Linked DNA regions of Homo sapiens: region 1 is linked to region 2. The links come from fine-mapping of genetic effects on plasma protein levels. Region 2 holds a variant in brackets. A gene starts in the other region. All regions are shown on their forward strands. Region 1 holds the start of HS6ST2 (heparan sulfate 6-O-sulfotransferase 2). Region 2 overlaps LOC105378448 (a long non-coding RNA gene).

The links. PIP is the posterior inclusion probability: the model's chance that the variant is causal. The UK Biobank Pharma Proteomics Project read protein levels with antibody pairs (Olink). The fine-mapping took linkage between variants from a reference panel, not from the people measured, so its PIPs are less certain.
Region 1: it holds the start of HS6ST2, and the variant in region 2 is fine-mapped to the plasma level of the HS6ST2 protein (UK Biobank, PIP 0.95).

The regions. Positions count from the first base shown.
Region 1 is chrX:132,956,502-132,971,001 of GRCh38, forward strand. HS6ST2 (heparan sulfate 6-O-sulfotransferase 2) reads right to left here and starts at 2,128. Exons shown (of 5, transcript NM_001394073.1): 1 at 1,674-2,128; 2 at 307-825. The coding sequence starts at 2,101. It overlaps LOC124905219 (a long non-coding RNA gene), which reads left to right and starts at 934. Exons shown (of 2, transcript XR_007068337.1): 1 at 934-2,375. RefSeq lists an enhancer at 1,507-2,007.
Region 2 is chr10:97,339,023-97,354,542 of GRCh38, forward strand. LOC105378448 (a long non-coding RNA gene) reads left to right here. Exons shown (of 2, transcript NR_188201.1): 2 at 3,785-4,181. Among named protein-coding and RNA genes, the nearest start is that of FRAT2, 12 kb to the left of the region's middle. The variant TA/T (reference allele first, on the strand shown) is at 8,606.

The DNA.
Region 1 (14,500 bases), not on the chromosome of region 2:
GTACGATGCCCCGTCCCAGCGGCCCCGTTCCGGCCGCTCGGCCGCCTCCCCCGCACGCTCTGCCAACCATCACGCAGGCCACCCTGCGGACAGACAGACGGTCAGTCCGGGGCCGGAGCGGAAAGCCTTTCTGTGGCCGCCACAGCGCGGCGAACGTGCGCTACTGGGCGCCCAGCACCTGCCCAGCCGGGGTGCAAACGCCCGGGCGTCAGGGTGCGCGCTAGGTCCCCGGCTTGGGCCAGCCGCGCCTCCCAGCCCTCCGCCCGCCTAGGCCCGGGTCCCGCTCGACTACCGGCGCGCACTCACCTGGACGGTCTCAGCCTGGCGTCGCGCTTGCCGTCCACCACGGAGGGCACACAGCTGGTGAGCTCGGTCCAGTCGGCGTGCAACCCGCAGCTCCAGCCCGTGGAGAACCTGGAGAAGAGCCAGGTTTCCCGCTTACCCGGCCGGTGGCAAGTGCATTTCTTCTGACCCACGCGGCACTCGCACGGCTGCTCCAGCTGGATGTTACGCACCAAGTGGCGGCCGAAAGTGGTGCCCCCGGTCTTCTGGATGTGCAGGAACACGATCAGGTCATCGCCCTTGATGTCGAAGTCTACCTTGCGCAGGAGGTCGCCGCGGGTGAAATTGTAGCGGGGCACGAACCTGGCGGAGCTCTCATCCTCCGAGCGGTACGGGTCCGGCACCGGGGAGCTGAACGCCTGCAGGCGGAGGAGCTGGCATTCTGTGCCGGGGCACACGTATTGGAGGACGATCACGGCAAATAGGAAGAGCATCACCAAAGCTAGCAGCAGCTTGTTGGATTTCTCATCCATGTTCCCGACGCTGGGGGAAACCCAAGCTCGTTACGTCAATCCCGCAGCTCAGCCCGCGCTCGTCGTGCCCCCGCACCGCCCCCTTCCCCTGGAGCCGCTGCTGCGCCCCTCTCCCCCTCCCCTCCGCACCGAGTACTCCACGGCGGCGGCGGCTGCGGCGGCGGCTCCCTTCCCCGCTTCCTTCCTTCCCGGCAGGCTCAGCGCTGTGGCTTCTGCGGCACACACACACCCCCACCCCGACTCCTTCCCGCGGGCCGTTCGCCCCCTCCCCCCGCCAGAGCTCTCCGGAGCTCCCCGGAGCCCCTCCACGGGGTTTAGCCCCAGTGGGACCCCTCCGGGCCCAGTCGCCCCACTCCTCAACTCACGCCCCCAGTCCGGGCCCCCGCGTGTCTCGCTCCACTCTCGGTGGCTCCCGCTCCCATCCCCATCCCGCTTCGTCCGCCGGACTCTCCGGGCTCTTCTGCCCCTATCCTCTTTGGAGCGCACACCTCTGTCCGGGTTTCTCCCCGCATGCCCCGAAGCCCTCCTTTTGCCGGCGCCCGCGCCCGCTTGCCCACCCGGTAGGCGGCCTCGAGGGAGCTCGGAGCCGGGGGCTCAGAGTTACCCTGGGGGAATGAGCCGGCCGGCAGCCCGACTTGCTATCGGAGACGCTGCGCTGCCGGTGCCCGCGGAACAGTAGCGACGGAGCCGCGGCGTGGGCAAATGCGCGCCGCACCCCTCCGGAGACCCTAGCCGGGCCACCAATGGCCAGCTGGAACTTTACGCCCTTCTCTACCCCCCGCGGCTGCCTTCCCTCCCCGTACAGCACCTTCGCGCCCTGGCCTGGGAGCGCGAACCCCGCTTTCACCTAGAACGTACCTGGCCATGGGGCCGAAAATCTTGGAGAAGATCGCACCGAGCACGTGCTTCAGCGAGTGGCCCAGGGCGGCCAGGCCCCGAGTGAGCAGGGCCCGGCAGAGGGAGCCCAGGTCCCAGCGTCGCCTGAGGACGTGCATCCGCCTGCGGCGGCCCCGGGACAGCAGCGCGAAAAGCGGGGCGCACGCGGCTCCCGCCAGGGAAGAAGACGCCTTTCGGGGCTTGTCCAGGAGCGGCCGGGTGTGGAATCCGTGAGACACACCCCTAGGAGGGCCCGCGCGAACTGAGGCGGCGACCGACCCGGGCCGGCTCGCTGCCAATTCGGCCTCTACTCTGGAATGCCGGCGGGGACAGGTGGTGCGGACGGGCGCTCCTCGCTCCGGTTGCCGCGGCGGCTCGAACTCCCGGACTGCACACGCAGGCAGTGCCATTCCCCCCTTCAGGCAACTCAGGGTACTAAGGATCACGAGCGAGCTTGAATTTATATAATAATGCCTCACGCCTAAGAGCTCGAGCCACTTCACAAGCAGAGAACCTGGGTTTTCTCTTTTCTTGGAGTACGGAGGTCACTCCGCTTAGCGCATCACTCCACTTTGGCTCGTAATTTCAACCTCTCCTAAAATAGCAAAGGCGCAAATTGGAGCTTTTCCGTCTCTCTTTGCCAATTTCCATTCTCCAGCGGAAGCGGGGGCATTTTCTGAAAAGGTAAGTCAGCATGATAAAAAGACAGCAGGACCAAAAAGCATTACAGAATGAGAATCTGACCTTTTTTAGAGCACAGACTGTCTTCTTGCTGAATCCTGTGTACCAAACCCTGTGCCTGCAGGAGGGCTTGACTCATAAAAGGTTTGTTGAATGAATGGATACATAACTAAAAACTCCATCAGAGTGAGACCGTCTAATCCAAGGTAATGTGACACATGAGGAAACTGAGGCCCAGAGAGGGGTAGGGATGTGCCCAAGGTCACACAGCAGAGCCCCAGGGTTTGAACCCAAGAAACCCAGCACCATCCACCTATTTCCTGATACTAACACCACCTTCTCTAATAAATAGGCACAGATCTTCCTCAAGCTCCAGTGTCCGAAAGGCTCTTTTCTGCTGCTGGACCAGGAATGCAGGGTTTAACAGGGAAAGAATGGATGTTCCTTCAGGAAAAGGACCCTGGGAACTCAGGAGTCAGTCTGTCCCCATCTGATTGATCAAAGGGGCTTGCTGTACATCAGGACACTGGTGTTTCCGTGACTGAGTGTGCAACTCCCTCCAGTCCCACTGCTACAGAAGGGGCACCGGTTGGCAGCAGTGTTTCTGAGCAGTGCTGTTGGCACTGGGGCCACTGAGTGGGAGAATGCAGACCACGAGCTGAGTCCTGGGGTGGGGGCATGTCCCTCCTGGAGACAGGCTCTCCCAGTATCTCCCTTGCTGAGCTCTGCTCCATCCGTTTCCTGTTCTATCTATGCCATGAAGCGGCAAGCCTAAGAATAGTCCAGAAGTCCTGGGAAATCTGTCCCTGGGCAGCACTGGGATAATCACTTGCCCCTCCTGAGCCTCAGTTTTCTTGTCTGTAAGATAGGACCAATTATGTCCCCTGTTTTGACCAACTGAGTCACCGTGGGGATGAAATGTAGAAACCTTTAGGCCACTCCAAATGTGAGGCTGTGTTTACCTGTTGCTCTAAGCTCAATGTGCCAACTGCGTCACAGGCCAAATAAGGAACAGGCCGTTCTCAGGCAATTCTGTGGCTGTGCACCCTGTCTTTACCACCCCCTAGAATTCCCAGCCCTGGCTAGACTTCTACGTGCCCCCAAACCTACTGGGGACCGTGAGGGACCCTTTGTCCAGCTGCAGACATAAGGGATAGTGGATTTTTTGGGAATCCTGAATTTCTAGCACTCCAGGCATCTCCTGTCCTGAGGTTCCAGGAACACTCTGAAAACCCAATGAACTTGTGCGAAGAAGCCAGATGCAGTAACTTACAAGGTTGACCTCTCAGCTTCCCCAAGAGCTCCCCTGGTGCCCAGGCTGGTAGTCCTAGGCCTGCTCCCCCTGAGGGCAGCTTAGGGTGTGAGCCAGGGTAGTGGGAAGCTATGGGGGTGGCCCCGGAGCTCTGCTTGCCAGCTGCCCCTGCCTTCTGCTTGGCCACTCACTGCAGTCAACCTCTTTAGCCTACCCAATAGGTGGCTCTCCTCATGGTGTCGCATAAAGATTCCCTGCCATTACACCACCTTTGTATGTAATGGCATTCATTGGGTCCCTAGGAAAATATTTCTGAAACAGGTGGGTCACAAATTCAAGCCCTCAGCAGCTAAACTACGGAGTTTCTACTGTAAGAGGGATTAGTGGCATTGGAACACAAGAAAGTGCCTTGGGTGGAGGGAAGGGGGAGGTGGTAAACAGTACGGGGGGAAAAGTCAGGTTTTACTCATTTGAGTTGTGAAAAGGAAGGTGTCCACACACCTGCACACACACTCACAGTCCAACCTTCAGAGAAAGGGCCAGTGAGGTTGGTAGTTGCAGAGCAAGAGGGACAAGGTGGGGCTGTAAAGTTCAGTTTCTGAGATATAATATGTCACTAGGATTTTTGCATTTAGAAGCCCTTCCTCCACCCCCTCATGCTGTGAGGAACAAAGAAATGAATCTCTCATACAGGAATTCATATATCAGGGCTCCTGGAAGTATAAGAAAACAGTCTTTGTGGGGAGCAGGGAGTCCCACAAACCTCAGAAGATCCCTCCAGGATTGAAGAGGCTTTTTGCTGAGAAGCAGGGAATTTTTCCTACGTGTGTCCCAAGAGCCATGTTCTCCCGAGGCCAAGGCTGGGCCTTGGCTGCATGTTGAAGAGGCTTCTTGTAATCTCGGCTGGTCTCTGCTCCCAGGAGCCAGTTCCTCTCAGGCAGTGAATGACAAAGGCTCAAATGCTCTAGATTTTGGCCTTTTGGGGAAAGACTGGGGGTAGGAGGCAAAAAAAAAAAAAAGGGAAGAGAACTGGCCGAACTGTCAAGTGTTCGGTTTTCCATCTCCTTAATTCTAACACCAACTGGAGTTGCTGTGTATGCATATATTTGGGATTCAGTACCTGGAAGGCGAGGAGAACTCTGTCATCTGAGCAGGGCTTCTGGTTGTCTCTATGGTGTGGTATGATTTTCATTATTTTCCCAGAACCGTCCTTCCATGGTTTCCAATGAAAAGGCTGATGATTCTGGGAGCATAAAGGTCAGCCTGGCTTGCATGCGAAGCAGCACAAGGCCAGACATGCATTTGGTTCCTGTAATCTGAGACAACAGTGGGAGGTAGTTACAAGAGCACTGGCCTGGGAGTCCAGAGACCTGGGCTCATGTCTTGACTCTGACACTAATGAGACTATATATATATATATATGACCCTGAGGAAGCCACTTGCTCACTTTTGGGCTCAACTTCCTTATCTGTGAGATGGCAAGGTTGACTTTGTGATTCAAGAGGCACTTCCCTGATCTGACATTCCTTGTCACATGTTTACCTTTACTGTCTTCCTCAAAGGCTGAAGGACTGCCAAAGACTCAGGGCCTTAGCCCGGGGGGAATGACTTAGACCTGGTTCTACCTGCATTCTGTGGCATTTGCATCACTGGATCCCACCAGGCCAGCAGCAGCTGCAGTTGTTCTGGGCCCATATTACAAGGGTGACAGCAGGGTACCCTGTTCAAATTAGAACAGAAATAGTGGAAACTTCATATTAAAGAAAGCATGACATTCTTTCCAGAAAGCATAGATTATGCCTTCCCCTCATCCTGAGCATTCTCTTCAACCCTGGCTTTCTAGCTGTCTCTCATTTTGTGAAAACGTTCATACTCTCAATAATAGGCAATTCTGTCACAAAGATGGAAGGCATGCAAACTACTGAGTTGACTGGTTTCTGTTCTTACGTGTCTCTCCAAACGGAATGAATAGCAGTACTTAATGAAAACACTGTCCGGCAATTCAGGCTTTAATATTATAAACAGGCTGGGTGTGTTATATGCATCACTCTCAATAGTCATTTAGTTTCCCCCACAGAACACTGAGTTTTATTTTTCTAGCCTAACAAAACGTGGGGCTCAAGGAGTTAAAAAAAAGGAGGTGCCAGGGTGCTGTATATGCTAAATGAATATGTGCTGAGAAGGTAGGATAAGCACTGGAATGGGGCTCATAGTAGACCCAACCCTGTGAACAAGCAGCCCAATGACCGGCCCTCTACTGATGAAGGGTTCCCACCATTTCACTAGCAGTGAAATTCCCTTTTTTTTTTTGAGATGGAGTCTCACTCTGTCACCCTGGCTGGAGTGCAGTGGTATGTTCTCAGCTCACTGCAGCCTCCACCTCCTGGGTTCAAGCGATTCTCATGCCTCAACCTCCAAGTAGCTGGGATTACAGACATGCACCACCATGCCTGGCTACTTTTTGTATTTTTAGTAGAGATGGGGTTTGGCCATGTTGGCCAGGCTGGTCTCGAACTTGTGACCGCAGGTGATCCACCCACCTCGGCCTCCCAAAGTGCTGGAATTACAGGCATGGGCCACTGTGCCCAGCCAAAATTCCCACTTTTCACTGACAACGAATGGAAGAGTCAGCTCATGCAGGGCTTTTAAAGCTACAATAAGCCAAGGCCTAGCAACCATAGGCAGCAGGCCAGACTGTTCCTGGAATAGTCATCTCACTTCTTTGGGCCTCAGTTTCCACTCTTAGAAAATATCCTGGGCTCGGTTTGGTGGCTCACACTTGTAGTTCCAACACTTTGGGAGGCCAAGGCAGGTGGATCGCTGGAGCACAGAAGTTTGAGACCAGCCTGGGCAACATAGTGAAACCCCGTGTCTACAAAAAAAAAAAAAAAAAAAAAAAATACAAAAAATTAGCTGGGCGTCGTGGCATGTACCTGTGGTTCCAAGCTACTCGGGAGGCTGAGGTTGGAGGATCCATTGAGCCTGAGAGATTGAGGGTGCAGTGAGCCATGACCATACTACTGCACTCCAGCCTGGGTGACAGAGTGAGACCCTGTCTCAAAAAAAGAGAAAAAAAAAAAAAAGAAGAAGAAGAAAGTAGCCTGACCAGGTACCTCCAAAAAGCTGGTTTAGGGGTATAGTAAAGAGGAATCCAATCTCAAATGAGTGCTTTTAAAGAGAAGAGAGCATAGGTTTGGAGAGCACACTGCCCTGTGGGGTTTAATTAGGGCTCTGTGAGTTCATCAGAACCTCAATTTTCTCATCCATGAAAATGAGGTTAATGATGGCTACCTCAGTGGGCTGTCATGCGAGTTAACTAAAATAATCTACTGAGAACACTTAGTCTAGTTCTTGAAAAAGCAGACCTTCAGAAAATGCTTGCTTTTTTCCGCCTCTTTTGACTCAATGTCTTTGATTTGATATCTTTGTTATATCTTCACAGTAGCAACACACATATACTTAATGACAGGCAACTGGCTATGGGCCTAATTTTGTCCTAGGCTGGCTTTGCCACATCCTATTTTTTTATCTGCAGTCTTTTCTCACCCTCCCTCCATGTCTCTCTAGTGCTCTCCTGGCTCATGTCCCATGGAGGAGGAAAGCCTCTGATCCACTGTGTCACATTGAGGGATGGGACAAATACACGTGTCCCCTTCCAAGATATATCAACAAGAAAAGAGGAGATGGCATTGCTTAACCCTAATGAATGGTCCTTCCCATGGGATACTAGGAAACACAGAAAATAGGGCACTGGAGGAGATGCTTGGAGAGCTGAGATAGAGAGCTATAGGTAAGTAAAGAGGAGAGCTTACGGGGCGAGCCCTACTTTAAACTCTTGACACTAATTTTAAGCTCCATTCACTTCAAAAGTTAATGGTTGATCTGGCCGGAGGGGTTTCCATTTGAGCAACTAGTCAAACCACAGCAGTTGGGATTAAAAAACAAGGTCAAGTTTGCATTCATCCTGCTTGAGCCTTAGCTGAACAAGCCCCATCAACTGAGCCCTGGGCTGGCAGCACCAGTTCACAGTGGCAGAGTAGAAAAAGCACCAAGTGGGATGCCAAGAAAACAATGTTTGAGTCCCAGTTCTGCCTCTGGCTCACTGTGTGACCCTGGGTGAGTCACTTGATGTCTCTGGGATTTAGTTGCCAACTTTCGTAAAATGAGGGGCTGCCTTAGATGACCGGGAAAGCCCCTCCCAGCAGGAGCCTTATGTGATCTGAGCTATGCTAGCTAATGAGAAGGCTGGGGAGGGACACCACTCTCTTCTGGCTGTTGTGTCAGCAAAGATACACTACCAAATATGACCCTCCAGTTAGTCACTGAGTCACAAAAGCGGAAGAAGGACTTAAATGAGGAGCAAAGTTTCTCAGATCATAGGGATAAGACAGAAAGTTGAAAATAAGGCTTCTGGGCCTCTACTGACTTGGATGGTAAAGTCAAGGCTGAAAGATTGGGAAAAAGTCATGTCAAGAACTTACCTCCAAGGCCAGGCGCAGCGGCTCATGCCTGTAATTCCAGCAATTTGGGAGGCCGAGGTGGATGGATCACCTGAGGTCAGGAGTTCGAGAACAGCCTGGTCAACATGGTGAAACTTTACTAAAATACATCTCTGCTAAAAATACAAAAATTAGCTGGGTGTGGTCGTGTGTGCCTATAATCCCAGCTACTTGGGAGACTGAGGCAGGATAATCGCCTGGACCTGGGAGGCAGAGGCTGCAGTCAGCCGAGAACATGCCACTGCACTCCAGCCTGGGCAACAGAGCAAGACTTCATCTCAAAATAAAAATAAAGAAGTGACCTCCAGCTAACACAACAGCCTAAGGTAGGTTTTAATAACGGTAATGATAAAAACAAAAATGGCCTTGCCTGACCCACAGTTTCCCATTTATGTTTATACTCTGGGATCTCAGCAAGAGAGGAACACACCCATTGCATGACTGGTCTCTGTGGGAGTCCTAGTTCTGAATACTAAAATACAAGAGTTGAAAATTATATCTTAGGTCAACCTGGAGAATTTGAAGGAAGCAGGCTTCAAGGCCAAAGTTGCTCCCAGGAAAAGGATTTATTTGTCATTCAAATGGGCTGGAAAGGAAATGCCTTATAAGCATAATCCAGGAAAAGAGAAATTACTTTAGAGAAGCCATACTTGTCACAGACTAAATGAAAATTAATTTTTAATAAGAAAGAGCCAGACCAGAGGCTCCTAAAGCCCTTAACTGGGCTTTATAGTAAAACCTGAGAAAGGACTTGCTTCTTTAATACGTATTTTCAAGATCCACATTTCACAAAATGGCATAAAAATGCAGAAAGCTACAGCATTAGAGCAGATGAGGGAAATGAACTTGGTAATAAGCACTTTGAATATTTATCTTCTGTACTGAAGAAAGTTGCCTTAATGGTTATCATCATGTGGGAGATTTAGCTGAAGCAGAAGATGATATTCAAATCCCCAATGAGAAGAGACAAAATGCGGTTGGTAGCGCTCAACAAGGGGTTAGAAATGCAACAGGCATGGGGAGAGGGGTCTACCTGTTGTCGAGGGTGCCAGTTTCAAAGATCTGCACAGTGATCAGGATGGCTGGCTATAGTGGTGTCTCCTGTAGGTTGACCTCAGGATGGTTAGCAAATAGTGCCAATAGTAGCTCACATACTGAACACTGAACATCTGCTGTATGTCAGATACTGTACTAAACGCTTTGCATGCACTATCTCAATTAGCATTGCCAGCAACCCAATGAGATAGTTACTTCTGTTGTACTTACTTTACAAATGAGTAAACTGGAGTTCCATATTACAGCCACACAACTAGGAATTATAGAGGTGGAACTTGAACCCAGATCTATCTAAGTCACGAGCCAATAATAACTCTAATGTCTCCCTGATCATCATCCAGCTCCAGGGTGTCTGAGTTTGATTGGAGAATATGAGACATCCTGTTCCAAAATACAATGTCAAGAGACTTAGATAATCCTCATCCCAGGCAGGAGAGCTGGACAGAGAGGGATTGTGTGTGTGCGTGTGTGAGCACACATGGACACATGCTGTCATGCACATGCTCTGAGAGCAGTGAAGAAGATAGAGAGCCCAAAGCCTGAATTTTAGTAAAGAGGGAAGCAGAGATGAAGACACTGCTGACTAGACAACTCAATACACACACAACCTTGGGATGTCACCCGCATGATCTGACACTGTTATCTTTGGGAAATGTCACAAGCAACTTTGTCCACTCTACTAAACAATAGCCTTCTGAAAGTCTAGGACCTTGGCTTCTTCATTTTTAAAAATTCTTCATAATGCTCAATAACAATCACATTTAGTCTAGGGCTTCACAGTTTACCCAATATTTTCACAGACACTGATTGGATCTTTACAATAATTCTGCAAGGCTGCTGTTAGTGTCCTCACTTTATTTATGAGGAAATGGAGTCCCTCAGGGCTGAAGAAACATGGCTAGGGTCACATAACGTGTGGAATTGCCACTTCTGACCTCTCCCTTAGCTCCCCCAAGCACACATACCAATGTCAGACAATGCCCACAGCACCTCACAACGGATCTGGGACAGAAGAGGTGCTCAAGAAATGTTAGTTTTTCCCCTTACTTGCCAATTTATGACTTAAAATGTTTTCTTTCCACTAACTACATTTTACCAGGTACCCAATATCTTCAACAGAGACTAGTCCACATTCTCAGAGAACTTACCATCGATATAAGGAAATATAATACACCTAATATGCAAGAGCCTGAGGATAATGACTGACTAATCTGTGGCACTAGCTCTAATGCAGTGACACTCAGCGGATGGTTCACAGATGTCTGGAATGGCCAGAAAAGCCTCCCTACTGAACATTGGGAGGGCCTGGAGGAGCTAATCAATCTGCCCACCCACCCATTCTTTTTTGTCTTGGTCCCAGAAAGAGGAACTTTTGCTGACAGAAACTGTTTTGACCACCTTTTCTTGTTGTACTCAGGGCATCAGTCCCTTCCTTGTTCACAGGGTTGTATACAAAGTGTCCTAGCCCTCCCCAGCTACAAATTCCACCCTCAATCTGCAGTGACAAGAGCGTGACATGGCGGAGTCTTTCATCAAGAGAGCAGTATGTAGCCTCACAAACACAGTACGGGCTGTGTCAACATGCACAACTCAGTTGCAGAGCAAATAGTTGATTTTTTTAGACCAAGTCAATAAGCTGCTTTTCACAGGGAGAAGAGGGACCAGGATAGGCACAGTTTAAACAAGAAGACACTCTGCATTTTACCCTAAATGTTTCCATTGTTCTATATCTTGCCAGTGGTTGGTAGCAAGTCAAAGCAAAAACTGACATTTAGTGTTCCAGAGTCTTCTGGAAGAGAGCCAGCTAATGAATTACCAGATGAACAGCTTTTGGCTCACTTATCAAGGACAAATCTTATGCCAGCTGAGATGCTAAGATGCTGTTGCAATAGCAAACTAACAACCACAATAACAACAACAATAATTTACCAGGATGATTGCAAGAATGCAGGACAGACAATTTTCTTTGTTGGCTGTAATCTGGAAATACGTTTAGTTTTGATTTTTCATCCACATTAGATGCTCATAACATGACATTCTAAACAGAGACATTTTAGGCTGGATATCAACAGAGAATTATTTTTATTCATCATTAGTTTCATCAAAAACTTAACAGCTGATATAGATTTCATCAAATGATGAGGGAGATTAGTATGATGTAAAAAAATTCACAACAAGGCACAAGGCTCACACCTGTAACCCCAGCACTTTAAGAGGCAGAGGCAGGAGGATCAGATTGCTTGATTCCAGGTGTTCAAGACCCTGTTTCTATAAATAAATAAATAAATAAATAGTGGGGCATGGTGGGGCACGCCTGTGGTCCCAGCTAATTCAGAAGCTGAAGTGGGAGGATCACCTGAGCCTGGGAGGTTGAGCCTGCAGTGAGCCATGATCACGCCACTGCACTGCAGCCTGGGTGACAGAGTGAGACCCTTCTAAAAAAATCACTATAAAGATGTATTTTATTCTTTTGCTCTGCCTTGTAACACTACCGTTCATCTAATACTCAGACAAACTGAGGGTAGAAGATTCAGGCTTAATTGTCCCTCCTCTCCACCAATACCCCCTGTACTAGTCTGAAATGACAAGGTAGGAGCTCCTCTTAGCAATATTTACAGACCATTCTTCACATAAAAGAATATAAGAACTCTCAAAAAGCTAAATAAACAGAGTACTCTAAACAAGCCCTCTTCCTGTCCTTTTCTCAGAAGTCTGCTGCAAAGGCTCTTGGTCAGTGCCACAGGCTGTTCTTTTATCTCAGTAACCGGAGTGCCTTTGCAAAGCTGGCCTGGAGGTCAGGTCTCAGGCTCACTCCCCGGTATTCAGTGAATTCTTAGTCAAGTCCAAGCTTGAGTCAGCTGCCTCCATTGTAACTCTTTTGCAATTCGATGGATAGCTTGGTCCTTATGTCTTGAGGATTGGAATCTCCTGGGCAGGGATTGGATTTCACTTTCCATGTCTACAGTGTTTGCACTAAGGTTATTAATATATTCTCTACAGGAGGGATCATATTGAGAGCAAGCTGAAATTCACATAACAAAGCCTGTGGCTTGAAACTACGCTGGGCCAAGCCCCCAGGGGGATACTGGGTAACTCTGAGCAGCCAGTCACCCTTGGAGAACATTGAGAAGCATCTGAGTCTACCCTTTCTGGGACACAGCATCTTTCTATATTAGACCCACTCTCCCAGACTTCCCACCATACCTGGAGGTGCCCTGCAACGCCAATGAGGGAAAATGTAACCTGAGGAACACTCATTTCCACCGTGGTGTGAGGGACTCAGAGGATTCCCTTTCCCAAAGTTCCATTTAGAATGAAATGAATGAATAATTTATACCAGGGTAAGAGTCAATAAGACCATTAAAGGAGCAGGCAACTGTAATACAAAGAGCACACCCTCTAGGATCAGACCAGGATTTGAAACTCAGTTCTGCTCTTTACTAACTGTGTGGCCTTAGGCAAGCAGTTAGCCTACCAGTGCCTCAGTTTCCTCCTCTGTCTCTGTACAATAGGTATGATACTAATCAACAACCTTGTAAGGTATGCATGTAAAGCTAGAGGATAATATACATAAAAGGCCTTTTACAGGCCCTTACAGAGAATGGGTATCCAACAAATGGCAGTTACTGTTATTAAACAAAGCAGGAGAGATGTCTGGGAACTTCTTAATGTCTTTCAAATCACAGCCCTAGGTGAATGTTTATATCCAATCTAGACAAGAATTACCCTGTTCAAATACATCATTGGATCTATACAGATGTTATTATTTTTCATTGTTTTGTTTTGTTTTTTGAGACAGGGTCTCGCTCTGTTGCCCAGGCTGGAGTGCAGTGGCACAATCATGGCTCGCTGCAGCCTCGACCTCCCTGGGCTCAAGCAATTCTCCCATCCCAGCCTCCCGAGTAGCTGAGACTGCAGGTGCATGCCACCACGCCTGGCCAATGTTTTGTATTTTTCATAGAGGCAGGGTTTTGACATGTTGTCCAGGCTGGTGTTGAGCTCCTGGGCTCAAGCAATCCTCCCACCTCAGCCTCCTGGGTTGCTGGGACTACAGGTGCATGCCTCTATGCCTGGCTAATTTTTGTATATTTTGTAGAAACAGAGTTTCACCGTGTTGCCCAAGCTGTTCTAGAACTTCTGGGCTCAAGCAATCCTCCCAGCTTGGCCTCCCAAAGTGCTGGGATTACAGATGTGAACCGCCATGCCCAGCTTATACATACGTTTTAATACTTTTCTGCCTTCATGTTTTTAATAACCCAAGTAAGGCTTGACTGAAACTCTTTGTAAATGTTCAAATATCATAGAAGGTGCAAAAATTCCTCTTGACCCCCATACAATTCCATTCCCTTCCCCTGAGGTAGCTGCTGTTTTCAGTTTGTTTTGTATGTTGGAGGGCCTTTATTGTAACCAAGTACACATATGAATACACATATTAAAATAAAGAATGTTGTTTTTGTGGGTTTTTTTTGAAAAGGAAAATGTATGTTTTGGATGTATGCTTTTGATATTTTATTGAACTATAATATACACTTGGAAAAGTGAACATAAGTGTACAATTGATGAAACATACATGAACTGAACATACCTATGTAATCAGCCCTCATACCAAGAAATGCTGCCATCACCTCAAAAGCCTCTCTTGTGCCCCGTTCCAGTCAACAAATCCCAACCAGTGGCCACTATTTCTGATTTATATCAGCATAGATTTGTTTGGCCTGCTTTTGTACTTTATATAAATCAAATCACAGAGTGTATTAATTTTATATTGCTATGTAACAAATTGCCACAGATACCACAGCTTAAAACAACACAGATCTATTCTCAGAGTTTCTGTAGGTCAAAAATCCAGGCACGGTGTGGGTGGATTCCCTTCTTAGGGGCTTATGGGGTTCAAATCAAGGTATCAGCCAGGGCTGTGATCTCATCTGGGGCCTGGGGTCCTCTTCCAAGCTCACTGGTTGTTGGCAGAGTTCATTTCCTTGCAGTTAAAAAACGGAGGTCTCTATTTTCTTGTTGGGTGTCAACCAGGGGTCACACTCAACAACTAGAGGTCATCTACATTCCTTGTCACAAGCCCTCCTCCACTTTCAAGCCAGCAACAGAGAATTTCTCTCATATCAGTCTCCCTCAAGCTTCAACTCTCCGACTTCTGATTCTGCAAGCAGTCCAGGAATATACTTTGCTTTTAAAGGAACTCATGTGGTTAAATCAGGCCCACCTAGATAATCTCCCTATTTTAAGGTAACTGATTTGGGACTTTAATTACATGTGCAAAATTCCTTTATGGTGGTACCTAGATTAGTGTTTGATTGGATAACTGG
Region 2 (15,520 bases):
ATGACATTCCACCATTGTGATTTGTTCCTGCCCCACCCTAACTGATCAATGGATCAATGTACTTTGTAATCTCCCCCACCCTTAAGAAGGTTCTTTGTAATTCTCCCCACCCTTGAGAATGTACTTTGTGAGATCCACCCCTGCCCACCAGAGAACGACCCCCTTTGGCTGTAATTTTCCATTACCTTCCCAAATCCTATAAAACAGCCCCACCCTTATCTCCCTACGCTGACTCTCTTTTCGGACTCAGCCCGCCTGCACCCAGGTGAAATAAACAGCCATGTTGCTCACACAAAGCCTGTTTGGTGGTCTCTTCACACGGACGCACATGAAACCAACCTCAGGTGATCTGCCCACCTTGGCCTCCCAAAGTGCTGGGATTACAGGTGTGAGCCACCGTGCCAGCCTGATGTTCAAGTTTTTTGGTTTTTGTTTGTTTGTTTTTTGTTTTTTTGAGATGGAGTTTCGTTCTTGCTGCCCAGGCTGGAGTGCAAGGCGGCAATCTCTACCGTGCCTGGCCAATACAACAAAATTTTATTCAGCCATGAAAAGGAATGAACTATTGATACATGCTATAACATTTTGCTCAAAAACATGCTGAGTGAAGCCAGACCTAATATAGGGCGGGCGCGGTGGCTCATGCCTGTAATCCCAGCACTTTGGGAGGCTGAGGTGGGCGGATCATGAAGTCAAGAGATCCAGACCATCTTGGTCAACATGGTGAAACCCCATCTCTACTAAAAAAAATACAAAAATTAGCTGGGCATGGTGGCACATGCCTGTAGTCCCGGCTGCTCGGGAGGCTGAGGCAGGAGAATCCCTTGAACCCAGGAGGCAGAGGTTGCAGTGAGCCGGGATCGTGCCATTGCACTCCAGCCTGGGCAACAGAGCGAGACTCCATCTTAAAAAAAAGAAAAAAAACAAAAAACAAAAAACCCATCTCTACTAAAAATACAAAAAATTAGCCGGCCGTGGTGGCAAGCACCTGTAATCCCAGCTACTTGGGAGGCTGAGGCAGGAGAATGGCTTGAACCCGGGAGGCAGAGGTTGCAGTGAGCTGAGATCACGCCATTGCACTCCAGCCCAGGCAACAGTGCAAGACTCTGTCTCAAAAAAAAAAAAAAAAAAGCTCATATATTGTATGGTACCAATTACATGAAATATCGACAACAGGTAAATCTATAGAGTTAGAAGCAGATTGATAGTTGATTAGAGCTGCGGGGGTGATTGAGGTAGGGGGTGACTGCTAACAGGCAAGGGGTATTCCTTTAGGGTAATGGAAAAATTTTGGAACCTGTTAGAAGTGGTGGTTGCACAGCATTGCAGGTGTACTGAATGCCACTGAAATGGCCACCCTTTGAAATCTCTATTTTTTTTTTTTTCTGAGTCTTGCTCTGTTGCCTAGGACAGAGTGGAGTGGCATGATCTTGGCTCACTGCAACCTCCACCTCCTGGGTTCAAATGACTCTCCTGCCTCAGCCTCCAAAGTAGCTGGAACTACAGGCCTTGCCACCACGCCCAGCCTTGAAATCGCTAATTTTAAGCAGGGCACTGGGCTGCAAGCTTGTAGTCTCAGCTACTTAGGAGGCTGAGGAAGAAGCATGGCTTCAGCCCAGGAGTTCAAGACCAGCTTGAGCACAAAGAGAGACCACTTCCCCGCCCCACAGACTCTGAAAAAATAAATACATAAATAAAATAATAAAATGGCAAATTTTATGTTATGTGAATTTTGCCTCAATAAAAATAATTATATACTTTATGCAGTATTTGATCCACTTCTTTCTTCCTTTGTAGTTGGAACTGCAATCTAATCTATTTGCTGATGTAAAACAATCACATCTGGCCAAGCATGGTGGCTCATGCCTGTAATCCCAGAGCTTTGGGAGGCTAAGGTGGGAGGATCCCTTGAGCCCAGGAGTTCAAGACCAGCCTGGACAACATGGCAAAACCCCATCTCTACCAAAACAAAACAAAAAAACAATCAGCCAGGCATGGTGGGGTGTGCTTGTGGTCCCAGCTACTCGGGAGGCTGAGGCAGGAGAATTGCTTGAGCCCTAGAGGTTGAGGATCTATTGAGCTGTGATCATATCACTGTACTCAAGCCTGGGTGACAGAGTGAGAGACCCTGTCTCAAAAAAGAGAAAGAACAAACCTTCTTCATATTAGTGTGGGAGATAGCAACTCCACAATACCACTAGCACCACACAACCTGGAATAGCTATATAGATTGTTTTGAGAATTTTATTATTGCAATTTTTTTTTTAAGACAGGATCTCACTCTCTCCCCATCTGGCGTCCAGTGGCATGATCTTGGCTCACTGCAACCTCCGCTTCCCGAGCTCAAGTGATCCTCCCACCTCAGCTTCCTGAGAAGCTGGGACTACAGGTGCACACCACCACACCCAGCTAATTTGTAGATTTTCTATAGAGATGGGGTTTTGCCATGTTGTCCAGGCTGGTCTTGAACTTCCAGGCTCAAGCAATCCACCCATCTCAGCTCCCCAAAGTGCTAAGATTACAGGCATGAAGCACCACACCCAGCCTATTTATTTATTTTAGAGACAGGATCTCACTCTGCTGCCCAGGCTGAAGTGCAGTGGTGTAATCACGACTCACAGTGGCCTCAACCTCCTGGGCTCAAGCAATCCTTCCACCTCAGCCTCCCAAGTAGCTAGGACTACAAATGTGTGCCACCGTGCCTGGCTAATATTTTTTATTTTTTGTAGAAATGAAGTCTCACTGTGTTGACCAGGCTGGTCTCCAACTCCTAGGCTCCAGCCATACTCCCTTCTCAGCCTCCCAAAGTGCAATTCTCCTTCCTCAGCCACCGAAAGCCCTGGGATTAAAGGTGTGAGCCACTGCACCCGGCTCACACACATTTTGAGAATTTGAAAACAACTCTATTGTGTTAAATGCTGAAATTCTGAGGTCTGTTACAGCATCTAGCATAACCCTAATGCACAGGGATAAAGGTTATCAGGGAAAAGAGAGGTGGAGAGAGCGCAGCACATTTAAGTACCATGAAAAAGTTCATGAGTGCGGGTGGGCAAAGAGACCTGATTTGCATTTGAAGAGGAGCTCTACCCACAGAAGTGCCAGGCTTAGGGGACTGACAGAGGAGGCAGATCCCAAAGATGTGAACAGAGAAGGCAAACGCCAGTTTAGGACTGATGGAAAAATCGCAGGCTCTGATCAGACACAGCCCAATGCCTTCCTTCTTCTGCCACAGCCCAGTTGAGTTACTATTGGCCTCCATTCCAGACAGCTGCCACATTGTTTTCCAGCTCTCACAGGCCCCCTATTTCACAGAATCCCAGTGAGTGTCTCCTACACAGGGTGGCTTGCTTCATTGAGGCAATTCTGGGTGTCCCTCCCTGGGTAGTTTGGTTTCTTGGGGAAAAGAAAGGGCAGATGACTCCACCCATCTGCAGACCCCAACATGCAAGTACACTTTTTTTTTTTTTTTGGAGATGGAGTCATGCTCTGTCACCCAGGCTAGAGTGAAGTGGCATGATCTCAGCTCATTGCAACCCTGCCTCCCGGGCTCAAGCGATTCTCCTGCCTCAGCCTCCCAAGTAGATGTGATTACAGGCAGGCACCACAACTCCCAGATAATTTTTGTATTTTTAGTAGAGACAGGATTTCACCATGTTGGCCAGGCTGGCCTCCAACTCCTGACCTCAAGTGATCCACCGGCCTCGGCCTCCCAAAGTGCTGGGATTACAGGCATGAGTCACTGCACCCAGCCGCAAGTACACCTGATGCCTTCTCTTTACCATTTCAGATTCCTGCAGGTAGACACCAAGGATCTCCTCAGAGCCAGCGCTGATCTCATCCACAGAGGGATCACATGACCTCATCTGGGAAAATATAAACCCTACCCACCTGCCTGCCCATTTGGAAATGCAGACTGGAGGACGCTAAGTTCATTCTTACCTATGTACTAACAAGTACACAAGAAGATGCTCAATATCATTAGTCCTTGGGGAAATGCAAATTAGATTATAATGAGATTCCAGTGTACACCCACTAGAAGGCTATTAAAAAGGACAATACCAACTGTTGGCAACAATGTGGAGAAATGGAACCCCTCCTACGTTTCTGATGAGAATGTAAAATGGTGCAGATACTTTGGAAAACAGTTTGGCAATTTATTAAAAGATTAAATAAGCATAAACTTACTATATGACCCAGTAATTCCACTCTTAGGACTCTGCTCAAGGGAAATGAAAATATACATCCACACAAAGACTTACACGAGAATGTTCATAGCAGCATTAGATATAGTTCAAAACTGGGAAACAATCCAGAGGTCCAACTAGCAAATGGATTTAAAAATGTGGGGCTGGGGCTGGGCGCGATGGCTCACACCTGTAATCCCAGCACTTTGGGAGGCTGAGGCAAGTGGATCATGAGGTGAGGAGATCGAGACCATCCTGGCCAACATGGTGTAACCCCGTCTCTACTAAAAATACAAAAATTAGCTGGGCGTTGTGGCGTGTGCCTGTAATCCCAGCTACTCAGGAGGCTGAGGCAGGAGAATCGCTTGAACCAGGGAGTCGGAGGTTGTGGTGAGCCGAGATCACACCACTGCACTCCAGCCTGGTGACAGTGAGACTCTGTCTCAAAAAAAAAAAAAAAAAGTAAAGTAAAGAAAGGAAAAGAAAGAAAATGTGGGGCTAGGTGCAGTGGCTCATGCCTGTAATCCCAGCATTTTGGGAGGCTGAGGTGAGTGGATCTCCTGAGATCAGGAGTTCGAGACCAGCCTGGCCAACATGGCGAAACCCCATCTCCACTAAAAAAAAAAAAAAATTGCCGCATGTGGTGGCATGTGCCTGTAATCCCAGCTACTCAGGAAGCTGAGGCAGGAGGATAGCTTGAGGAGGTGGAGGTTGCAGTGAGCCGAGATTGTGACATTGCACCCCAGCCTGGGTGACAGAGCTAGATTCTGTCTCAGAAAAAAAAAAAAATTAAGACCAGGTGTGGTGGCTCACGCCTGTAATCCCATGAGTCTCCGTCTCAACAAACAAACAAACAAGTGTGTATCTGCAGACAATGGGATACTTTTCAGCAATTTTTTTTTTTGAGACAGAGTTTCACTCTGTGGCCCAGCTGGAGTGCAGTAGCGTGATCTTGGCTCACTGCAACCTTTGCCTTCTGGGTTCAAGCGATTCTCCTGCCTCAGCCTCCTGAGTAGCTGGGTCTACAGGCACCTGCCACCACGCCAGATAATTTTTGTATTTTTAGTAGAGATGGGGTTTCACCATGTTGGCCAGGCTGGTCTCAAACTCCTGACCTCAAGTGATCCACCTTCCTCGGCCTCCCAAAGTGCTGGGATTACCGGTGTGAGCTACTGCACCCGGCCTGGTTTGTCTTTTCTACCTCACCAATTAGTCCTCCTCTGTCTGCTCTTAATGGTGGAGAATCCCAAGCTTAGGCCTTGTGTTCTCTTCTCTGTCTACACTCATCCACTTGTCAATCTCCCAATATATTTGCTTGACACACACACACGCCTCCCTCATGTACTCGCCCTGCCTGGAGCTCTCCCCAGCCACTCTGGCGGCTCCATCTCCACTGGGATGCCTAACAGCCATCTCCACCTCAGCGTGTCTGCAACTGAACCCCTGACTTCCTTGCCCCTAAATGCTCCATCTGCAGTCTTCCCCATCTCAGTTAATGACCAGTCCATGAATCTAGTAGCTCGGGCTTGGAGTCATCCTTGATTCCTCCCTTTCCTCTTACACTCCACAGCCAATCTTTCAGCAAATCCCACGGTCACTACCTTCAAGATATATCCAGAATCCAACCACCTGCCAGCACCCCACTGCGAGCCTCCTGGCTCAAGCCCCCCTCATCTCTCCCTTGGATGATTGCACTACTAATCTTCTAACTGGTCTCCCTGCTTCTGCCTTTGCCCCTCTGCAGACTATTTTCCACACAGCAACCCAGTGACTTTAGAAAAACCCAAGTCAGATAATGTGACCCCATGTTCACAACCTTCCAGAGGCTTCTTTTTCTTTTTGAGAAGGAGTCTTGCTTTGTCGCCTAGGCTGGAGTGCAGTGCTGCGATCTCGGCTCACTGCAACCTCTGCCTTCTGAGTTCAAGCAGTTCTCCTGCCTCAGCCTCCCGAGTAGCTGGGAATACAGGCGCCCGCCACCAGGCCCTGCTAATTTTTGTATTTTAGTAGAGACAGGGTTTCACCATCTTGGCCAGGCTGGTCTTGAACTTCTGACCTCGTGATCCACCCACCTCAACCTCCCAAAGTGCTGGGATTATAGGCATGAGCCACTGCACCTAGCCGGTCAGAGGCTTCTTTTTCTTTCTTTTTTTTTTTTTTGAGATGGAGTCTCACTCTGTTGCCCAGGCTGGAGTGCAGTGGCATGATCTCAGCTCACTGCAACCTCTGCCTCCCGGGTTCAAACGATTCTCCTGCCTCAGCTTCCCGAGTAGCTGGGATTACAGGCGCTCGCCACCACACTCAGCTGATTTTTGTAATTTTAATAGAGACAGGGTTTCACCACGTTGGTCAGGCTGGTCTCGAACTCCTAACCTCAGGTGATCCACCTGCTTTGGCCTCCCAAAGTGCTGGGATTACAGACGTGAGCCACCGTGCCTGGCCTAAGAGGATTCTTTTTCTACTGGGAGGAAAAGGCAAAGTCCTTAGACCCCAGCATCTGGCCCCTGCCCTCATCCTAAGCCCATGTCCTACCACACCCCTCCCACTCACTCAGCTCCAGCTGCTTTTCCTTGAACACGCCAAGCACAGGCCTGCCTCAGGGCCTTTGCACTTGCTGCTTCCTCCATCCAAGGAGCTATCTAAAGGCTCTATTCCTCACCTCTTTCAAGTCTTAGTCACTTTCTCAGGTCACCCAATTTAAAGTTGAAAGCTTCCTGGCCAGAAGTGGTGGCTCACGCCTGTAATCCCAGCACTTTGGGAGGTCAAGGCAGGTGGATCACTTGAGGTGTGGAGTTTGAGACCAGCCTGACCAACATAGTGAAACCCCATCTCTACTAAAATACAAAATAGCTGGGTGTAGTGGTGGGCATCTGTAACCCCAGCTACTGGGGAGGCTGAGGCAGGAGAATCACTTGAACCTGGGAGGCAGAGGTTGCAGTGAGCTGAGATCGCGCCACTGCACTCCAGCTTGGGCAATAGCAAGACTCTGTCTCAAAGAAAAAAAAAATTGAAACCTTCCCTCTCTCTCATCCAGCACCCCCAGCCCCTTTACTGCTATGTCTCTTTAACACACATCACCATCTAATATCCTACAATTAAGGTATTGATTTTGTTTGATCCCACCATGAAAGCTTGGGATTTGCTTGTTTTGTTTGGTGCCTAGGACAGCGCCTGACACATAGGAGGCAACAATAAAAATGTGTTGATGATTGAATGAATGGTGTCCAGCCTTGGTGTTCCAGTAAATAAGGGGTAGTCTTCCCTCTGCAGAAGATGAGGATCCCTGCACCAACAGCACTGAATTCAGGTTTCAGTTTACATACCACTTACAGCCATTTGTAAATTTTATTTATTTATTTATTATTTATTTATTTATTTGAGACAGAGTCTCATTGTGTCGCCAGGCTAGAGTGCTGTGGCATGATCTTGGCTCACTGCAACCTCCAACTCCCTGGTTCAAGGGATTCTCCTGCCTCCGCCTTCCAAGTAGCTGGGATTATAGTCATGCGCCACCATGCCTGGCTAATTTTTGTATTTTTAGTAGAGATAGGATTTCACTATGTTGGCCAGGATGGTCTCGATCTCCTGACCTCGTGATCCGCCTGCCTCGGCCTCCCCAAAGTGCTGGGATTACAGGTGTGAGCACCATGCCCGGCCCACTTATTTATTTATTTATTTTTTTTGGGACAGAGTCTCACTCTGTTGCCAGGCTGGAGTGCAGTGGCACGATCTCGGCTCACTGCAACCTCCGCCTCCAGGTTCAAGCGATTCTCCTGCCTCAGCCTCCCAAGTAGCTGGGATCACAGGCGCCCACCAACACACCTGCCTAATTTCTGTATTTTTAGTAGAGACGGGTTTCACCATGTTGGCCAGGATGGTCTCGATCTCTTGACCTCGTGATCTGCCTGCCTCGGGCTCCAAAACTGCTGGGATTACAGGCGTGAGCCACCGCACCCGGCTTTTTTTTAATATTTAATTTTTTTGAGACAGTGTCTCACTCTGTTGCCTAAGCAGCTGGAGTGCAGTGGCAGGATCACAGCTCACTGCAGCCTCAACCTCCCTGGGCTCAGGTGATCCTCCCACCTCAGCCACCCCAGTGGCTGGGAATACAGGTGGGTGCTGTCATGCCCAGCTAATTTTTGTATGTTTTGTAAATAAGGGGTTTTGCCATATTTCCCAAGCTGGTCTCCAACTCCCAGCCTCAAGATATCGGCCTGCCTCGGCCTCCTAAAATGTTGGGATTACAGGTGCGAGCCACCCGCCCAGCCAACAGCCACTTCTTATCTCCCTGTCCAGCACTGCCCCCACCCCATCCTAATGCACCAGCCCCTCTTGTCTGGATCATAACAGCAGCTTCTCAGCAGGTTACTTCATTTCCTCTTGCCCTGTTCTAATCCATCATCCATACATACAACAGCCAGTGATCT[TA/T]AAAAAAAAAAAAAAATTGGATCAGGTCAGTGTCCTGTGTGCTCCCTCCCCTCTAATTTGAGTGAGGATAATTCCAGTCCCAGTGAGAACCACCTCCGCCACCAGCCTCTCAGCCCTGTCTGCCAGCATTCTCCTCCTTGCACCCCTGGTTGGGTAACCTTGGCCTTCTGTCAGTTCTTTGAAGAAGCCAAACTCTTCGCTCCAGGGTCTCTGCTACTGAACATTCTTTTTCCCCTTCTTGGCCTGTAGCAGCACAGCCCCAAAGTGAGGCACTTTTTGTTTTGTTTTGTTTTTTTGAGATGGAGTTTCGCTCTTGTCGCCCAGGCTGGAGTGTCATGGCACAATCTCGGCTCACTGCAACCTCTGCCTCCCAGGTTCAACCAATTCTCCTGCCTCAGCCTCCCAAGTAGCACATTACATGTGCCCGCCACCACACCCAGCTAATTTTTGTATTTTTAGTAGAGATGGGTTTTCACTATGTTGGCCAGGCTTGTCTTGAACTCCTGACCTCAGGTGATCTGCCTGCCTTGGCCTCCCAAAGTGCTGGGATTACAGGCGTGAGTCACCATTCCCAGCCAAAGTGAGGCACTTTTAACAGCAATGCTCCCAACCCCAACTGCACACACACATAAACACAGTCTAAGTAGAAACAGTAAGCCTGGTATGCAAACAAAGCTTCCACATGAGTCCAGCCCCAGCCCACCTTCCAAGCTGCAAGTGACTGCTGCCCTTGGTCCCGGGTTTCTGGAAATGTAGGAGCCTTGGTTGTTTGCCACCCTAAAGCCTACTCATCCTCCAGGTCTTAGCTAAATGCCACTCCAAGAGGCCCTCCTGCTATGGCTCCCTTCACTTGCCCAAACCAGGACCCAGCATGATATCCATGCCGAACCTTCATAGCACTATCCTTTTTTTTTTTTTTTTTTTTTTTTTTTTTTTTTTTTGAGACGGAGTCTCGCTGTCGCCCAGGCTGGAGTGCAGTGGCGCAATCTCGGCTCACTGCAGGCTCCGCCCCCTGGGGTTCACGCCATTCTCCTGCCTCAGCCTCCCGAGTAGCTGGGACTACAGGCGCCCGCCACCTCGCCCGGCTAATTTTTTGTATTTTTAGTAGAGACGGGGTTTCACCGTGTTAGCCAGGATGGTCTCGATCTCCTGACCTCGTGATCCGCCCGCCTCGGCCTCCCAAAGTGCTGGGATTACAGGCGTGAGCCACCGCGCCCGGCCAACACTATCCTAATCATGTGTTTTATTAAATTTTTTATTTATTTGTTCTGGCTCCTCATAAACTTAGTGAAGGCAAGGATCCTGCCTGCATTGCTTACTACTCTATCTCTCACCCCTCACCAAATGTCTTTTTGGAAGTCCTTTGCTCAGAATAAATGCCCAATGAGAGAGAGAGAGAGAGAGAGAGAGAGAGAGAGTGTGTGTGTGTGTGTGTGTGTGTGTGTGTAAGGGAGAGAGAGAGAATAAGAAATGTGCAAGAAGAGGCCGGGCGCGGTGGCTCATGCCTGTAATCCCAGCACTTTGGGAGGCCGAGGCGGGCGGATCACGAGGTCAGTAGATCGAGGCCATCCTGGCTAACACGGTGAAACCCCCTCTCTACTAAAAATACAAAAAATTAGCCGGGCGTGGTGGTAGGTGCCTGTAGTCCCAGCTACTCGGGAGGCTGAGGCAGGAGAACAGCGTGCACCCAGGAGGTGGAGCTTGCAGTGAGCCAAGATCGCGCCACTGCACTCCGGCATGGGTGACAGAGTGAGACTCTGTCTCAAAAAAAAAAAAAAAGAAATGTGCAAGAAGATCGCGGAAAGAGACTTGCAGGCCAGCTGCATCCCCCTCCTTGGAAGAGACACGAAGGAATGCCCAGCCCAGCCCAGCCCTTCCCTTCATGTCAAGTTCACGCTGTTCAAGCTCACCCACCTCTCACTGAGTATAAACAGACCTGTTTTGTAATTGGTCTTTATCCCAGAGTAGCAGAGCTTTGGGAGCAAAGAGCCTGCAGGGTAATGAATGGGAGGGAGAACAGACGCTGGTGTCCAACTTCACATGGCATTTGGAAATTCACAGCCAAGCCTCTTTGCAACACTGTGCCCTCCCCGGGGGCTAATTTCAGCAGGCTGCAGCAGCATAGGCTTTAACTCCAGAGACCTGGGTGCTACCTTCTGCTACCTGCATAACTCTGCCCAAACCATGCATCCTTTCTGCCTTTCAGTTCTCAGCTGCGAAGTGGGAATCATGATAAAGATAACCATAATCACAATGCAAACAGGGCAACTGTTGCAAGGATCAAAAGAGATGGTGGGTGTGAATGTGTTTGGTAAGCTGGAGAGCTCCGTACAAGCTCCAATTGTAACTGCCACCGTACCTGTGCAGGAGATTCAAATCTGGCAGGTGTGACTGTGCATGTAACAGACGCTAGACCCCTTTGTGAAATCCTGAGGAACCCCTACAGGACCCACGTGATAGTCCTCATGTGAGCAGGGAGGAATTTTCTCAGAATACTAGATGTCAGCTTTGCTAGTTGATAATTATGAGTGTTTGCTTTGGAGCACCCCATCTTCTTCGAGGAGTTGAACTAGCTGCTGGAATGATGAATGAAGGCGTTTTTAGATAAGTATTATCACACAATGATCCAATCGATACACATAAAATCTGCTCAGGGCAACACTGTGCCTTGTCATTTTTATGAGCATATTTACAACTGAGGGTTGGTCTCAGGTTATCTACTGTGTATGTAATTCAGGCTCAGTGGCCTCAAGTCCAAGAGCTATGGCATAGCAACTGTTCTGGTTAAAAACAAGACTTCTGGCCGGTCATGGTGGCTCACACCTGTAATCCCAGTACTTTGGGAGGCCGAGGCGGGCGGATCACTTAAGGTCAGGAGTTCAAGACCAGCTTGGCCAACATGGTGAAACCCCATCTCTACTAAAAGTACAGAAATTAGTCAGGCGTGGCAGCATGCACCTGTAATTCCGGCTACTTGGGAGGCTGAGGTAGGAGAATTGCTTGAACCCAGAGGTTGTAGTGAGCTGAGATCATGCCTCTGCACTCCAGCCTGGGTGACAGATTGAGACTCTGTCTCAAAAAAGCAAACAAACAAAAAACCAAGACTTCCAAGAGCTTGCAGAACCTTCACTGGTGGAGGACCATGAGGGCTATACAGGTTATTCCTGGCACCAGTTGCAAATCCATCTGCCTGTCATCAGTGCCTCACATCCTCTTTGAAATTCTGACTTAAAATCATCAGCTCTGTAATGGGTGATGGGTGACATCCCTGGAATTTGGAAATCAGGCTGCCCTCTGGAAGTTAAACCCTTCAAGTCTACACGAGGGACAGGATTAGTTATCTGAACAAGGCCCCAGAAGGAACAGGATGTCTCTCTGGTGAAAGCCAGAACTGGCCTTGGAAATTCAATCCAGGCATGCCTGCCTGTGAAGGAAGCCTTACTAAATCTCAGAACAGGCTGGGCCTGGTGGCTCACGCCTCTAATCCCAGCGCTTTGGGAGGCTGAGGCGTGGGTGGATCACCTGAGGTCAGGAGTTCGAGACCAGCCTGGCCAACATGCTGAAACCCCGTCTCTACTAAAAATACAAAAAATTAGCCGGGAGTGGTGGTAGGCATCTGTAAATCCCAGCTACTTGGGAGGCTGAGACAGGAGAATCGCTTGAACCTGGGAGGCGGAGGTTGCAGCGAGCCAAGATCGTGCCACTGCCCTCCAGCCTGGGCAACAAGAGCGAAACTCTGCCTCAAAAAAAAAAAAAAAAATCTCAGAACAGCTTCTGAACAGCAGGTAAATGGCTGCAAAGGCCCTACAAGATACCAGAGAGGAAGGATCTGTTCCATTCTGCAGCCAACCAAAATAGAGGGGCAGGGCCCCAACAGGCTGCTAGGAGAATGGGCCCCTGTAGGCAGATATATCCCCAGAGACAAAACTGTCCCACCCCAATGACAATATTATTCACATATCACTTGCATGATTCCATTTGCCCTGTTTTATGCCCCCAGTACAGAAAACACACTGGTTTCAGCTTCCTATGCAAGGGAGCATGTGCTGAGCAGTCACCTTGAGTATCTTGGGCAGTTATAGTTCTCATTATAAATTAATATATTATAATTTCGACTAGGTCTCATGTGAATCTGTATCTTCTTCTCTGAACCTGATCAATCCTGATTTTATCCTTATTTATTTATTTAGAGTTCCAGGCTGGAGTGCAGTGACTATAACAGGCTGGACCAAAGTGCATTGCAGCCTCAACCTCCTGGTCTCAAGTGATCCTCCCACCTCAGCCTTCCAAGTAGCTGGGTCTAGAGGCACATGCCACTGCACCCAGCATCAATCCCAATTTTAGACTTGTAAAGCTGATCTCCAGTCCTCAGCCCTGGAATGAGTATGCAGCAGCAAGCCACTACACCATCTACCTACGTTCTTAGTCAGTATTTACTGATGATTGACCACGGCCTCAAAACCCAAATCCAGGCATTTCCATGACGAATCATTGAGATTTGGAATGGGAGGAGGAAATGTGCCACTGCATCCCTGGCCTTGGATAACTCAGCTGGCCTCTAACAGCTTGGTGTTTCTAATGGCAGTAGCTACGTCAAGCATAATTTCAGGAAATGGCAAACCAGCTTACATTGTCCCAAATCAGGGTTATTTTCTGGAGTACAGTCATCTATCTATTCACAATAATGTATATCGAAAATAGAACATAGAGTAGTCATCACGGCATTTTCTAAATACTCCTTTGCACACGGTCTGGCATCTAGTGATGGCATTAAATTCCTGCATACAGCAAAGAACAACATACTTATGGACTCAAAGATGCTTTGTAAACTGAACTATGTCCGCTGGGCAGATGTTTAAAGCTGAGCTACTGAAAATGATGTTTATAGCCGGGTGCAGTGGCTCATGCCTATAATCCTAGCACTTGGGGAGGCCGAGGTGGGCGGATCACCTGAGGTTGGGAGTTCAAGACCAGACTGACCAACATGGAGAAACCCCATCTCTACTAAAAATACAAAAATTAGCTGGGCGTCGTGGTGCATACCTATAATCCCAGCTACTCGGGAGGCTGAGGCAGGAGAATCACTTGAACCTGGGAGGCAGAGATTGCAGTGAGCCAAGATCGCGCCATTGCACTCCAGCCTGGGCAACAAGAGTGATACTCCGTCTCAAAAAAGAAAAGAAAAGGAAATGATCTTTATGAAGCATTTACATTAGTATACGGTAAGAACTTTAGTCAAGTGCAAATTTAGAACACAAATTGTCCAGGCATGGTGGCTCATGCCTGTAATCCTAACACTTTAGGAGGCTGAAGCAGGAGGATTGTTTGTGTCCAGGGAATTTGAGGCTGCAGTGAGCTGTAACTGTGCCACTGCACTCCAGCCTGGATGACAGAGCAAGATCTTGTCTCAAAACACACACACACATATATATATATAAAGTGTAAACTTGCATTTTAAAACATTTTTTTTTTTGAGATGTAGTCCTGCTCTGTTGCCCAGGCTGGAGTGCAGTGCCGTGATCTCGGCTCACTGCGATCTCTGCCTCTCAAATTCAAGCAATTCTCTTGCCTCAGGCTCCCAAGTAGCTGGGATTACAGGCACGCACCACCATGCCCAGCTAATTTTTTTGTATTTTTAGTAGAGACGGGGTTTCACCATGTTGGCCAGGCTGGTCTCAAACTCCTGACCTCAGATGATCCACCTGCTTTGGCCTCCGAAAGTGCTGGGATTACAGGCATGAGCCACCGTACCTGGCCCCATTTTTCCTTTTTTTGAAATAGGGTCTTACTCTGTTGCCCAGGCTGGAGTATAGTGACATGATATCGGCTCACTGCAACCTCTGCTTCCCAGGCTCAAGCTCTTCTCCCACCTCAGCCTCCGGAGGACCTGGGACTACAGGTGTACTCCATCACGCTTGGCTAATTTTTTGTAGAGACAAGGACTCACTATATTGCCCAGGCCAGTCTCAAACTCCTGGGCATAAACGATACTCTCGCCTCAGCCTCCCAAAGTGTTGGGATTACAGGTGTGAGCCATTGTGCCTGGCCTTACATTTTTTCCTTAATTAAAAAAAAAATAGCCCTACGTATATTAAGAAAAAAAAGAATGAAATGCACTAGTAATAACAGAATTTGGTGGAAGGATTTTAGCCCCTACTTTTACTTTTGTTTTTTCCAAATGTTCTGGGAATCTTTATCACTTTTGTAGTGAAATATATACGATTTTAATTTTTAAAATTACCCTTTGAGGAAACATAAGCAACCAAGAAAGAAAAAATGGGGAAAGGACTCTGAGGACTGAAAACAGGCTACCTGAACTTCATAAGCAATTTTGTTACATGTTGCAAACAGTACAGAAAAAACACCCTTCTTGGGACTGATCATGCTGTAAGTAGGACTAGCTCTAAAGATGGCCACTGGCAGGAATGAACTGCCAGGACAGTCCCCACCAAGCCTTCTGCCACAATCACGAGAAGGGAAATAGTGAAGGGGCAAGGTCAGTTTAACCTGACTCACCCATGGCCAGAAGTGTCACAATGTGGACATGACTAGACCGCCTTTGCAAATCCCCAAAGCTTGACCACTCCCTTGGCCAACTGCAGGGTTGCGGTTTTCGTAGTCAAGCAGGGTAGGACCTGTTTTCCATTTCTGAGAATGAGTGGAGGATGGACCCCAGAAAAGCAAGCCTCAGATTGACATTCCCAAAAGCACAAATTGAAAATCTGGAGAGTGAGAGCTCTCAACTTTCCTATTCACCCTAAAATTGGATGAATCTTTTGTTGATGAACACTCCTAAGACTCTCTTTCGCCACACTGTTGAAACAACACTGACTTTGTTTTTTTTTTTTTGAGACAGAGTTTCGCTCTTGTCACCCAGGCTGGAGTGCAAAGGCGCGCTCTCAGCTCACTGCAAC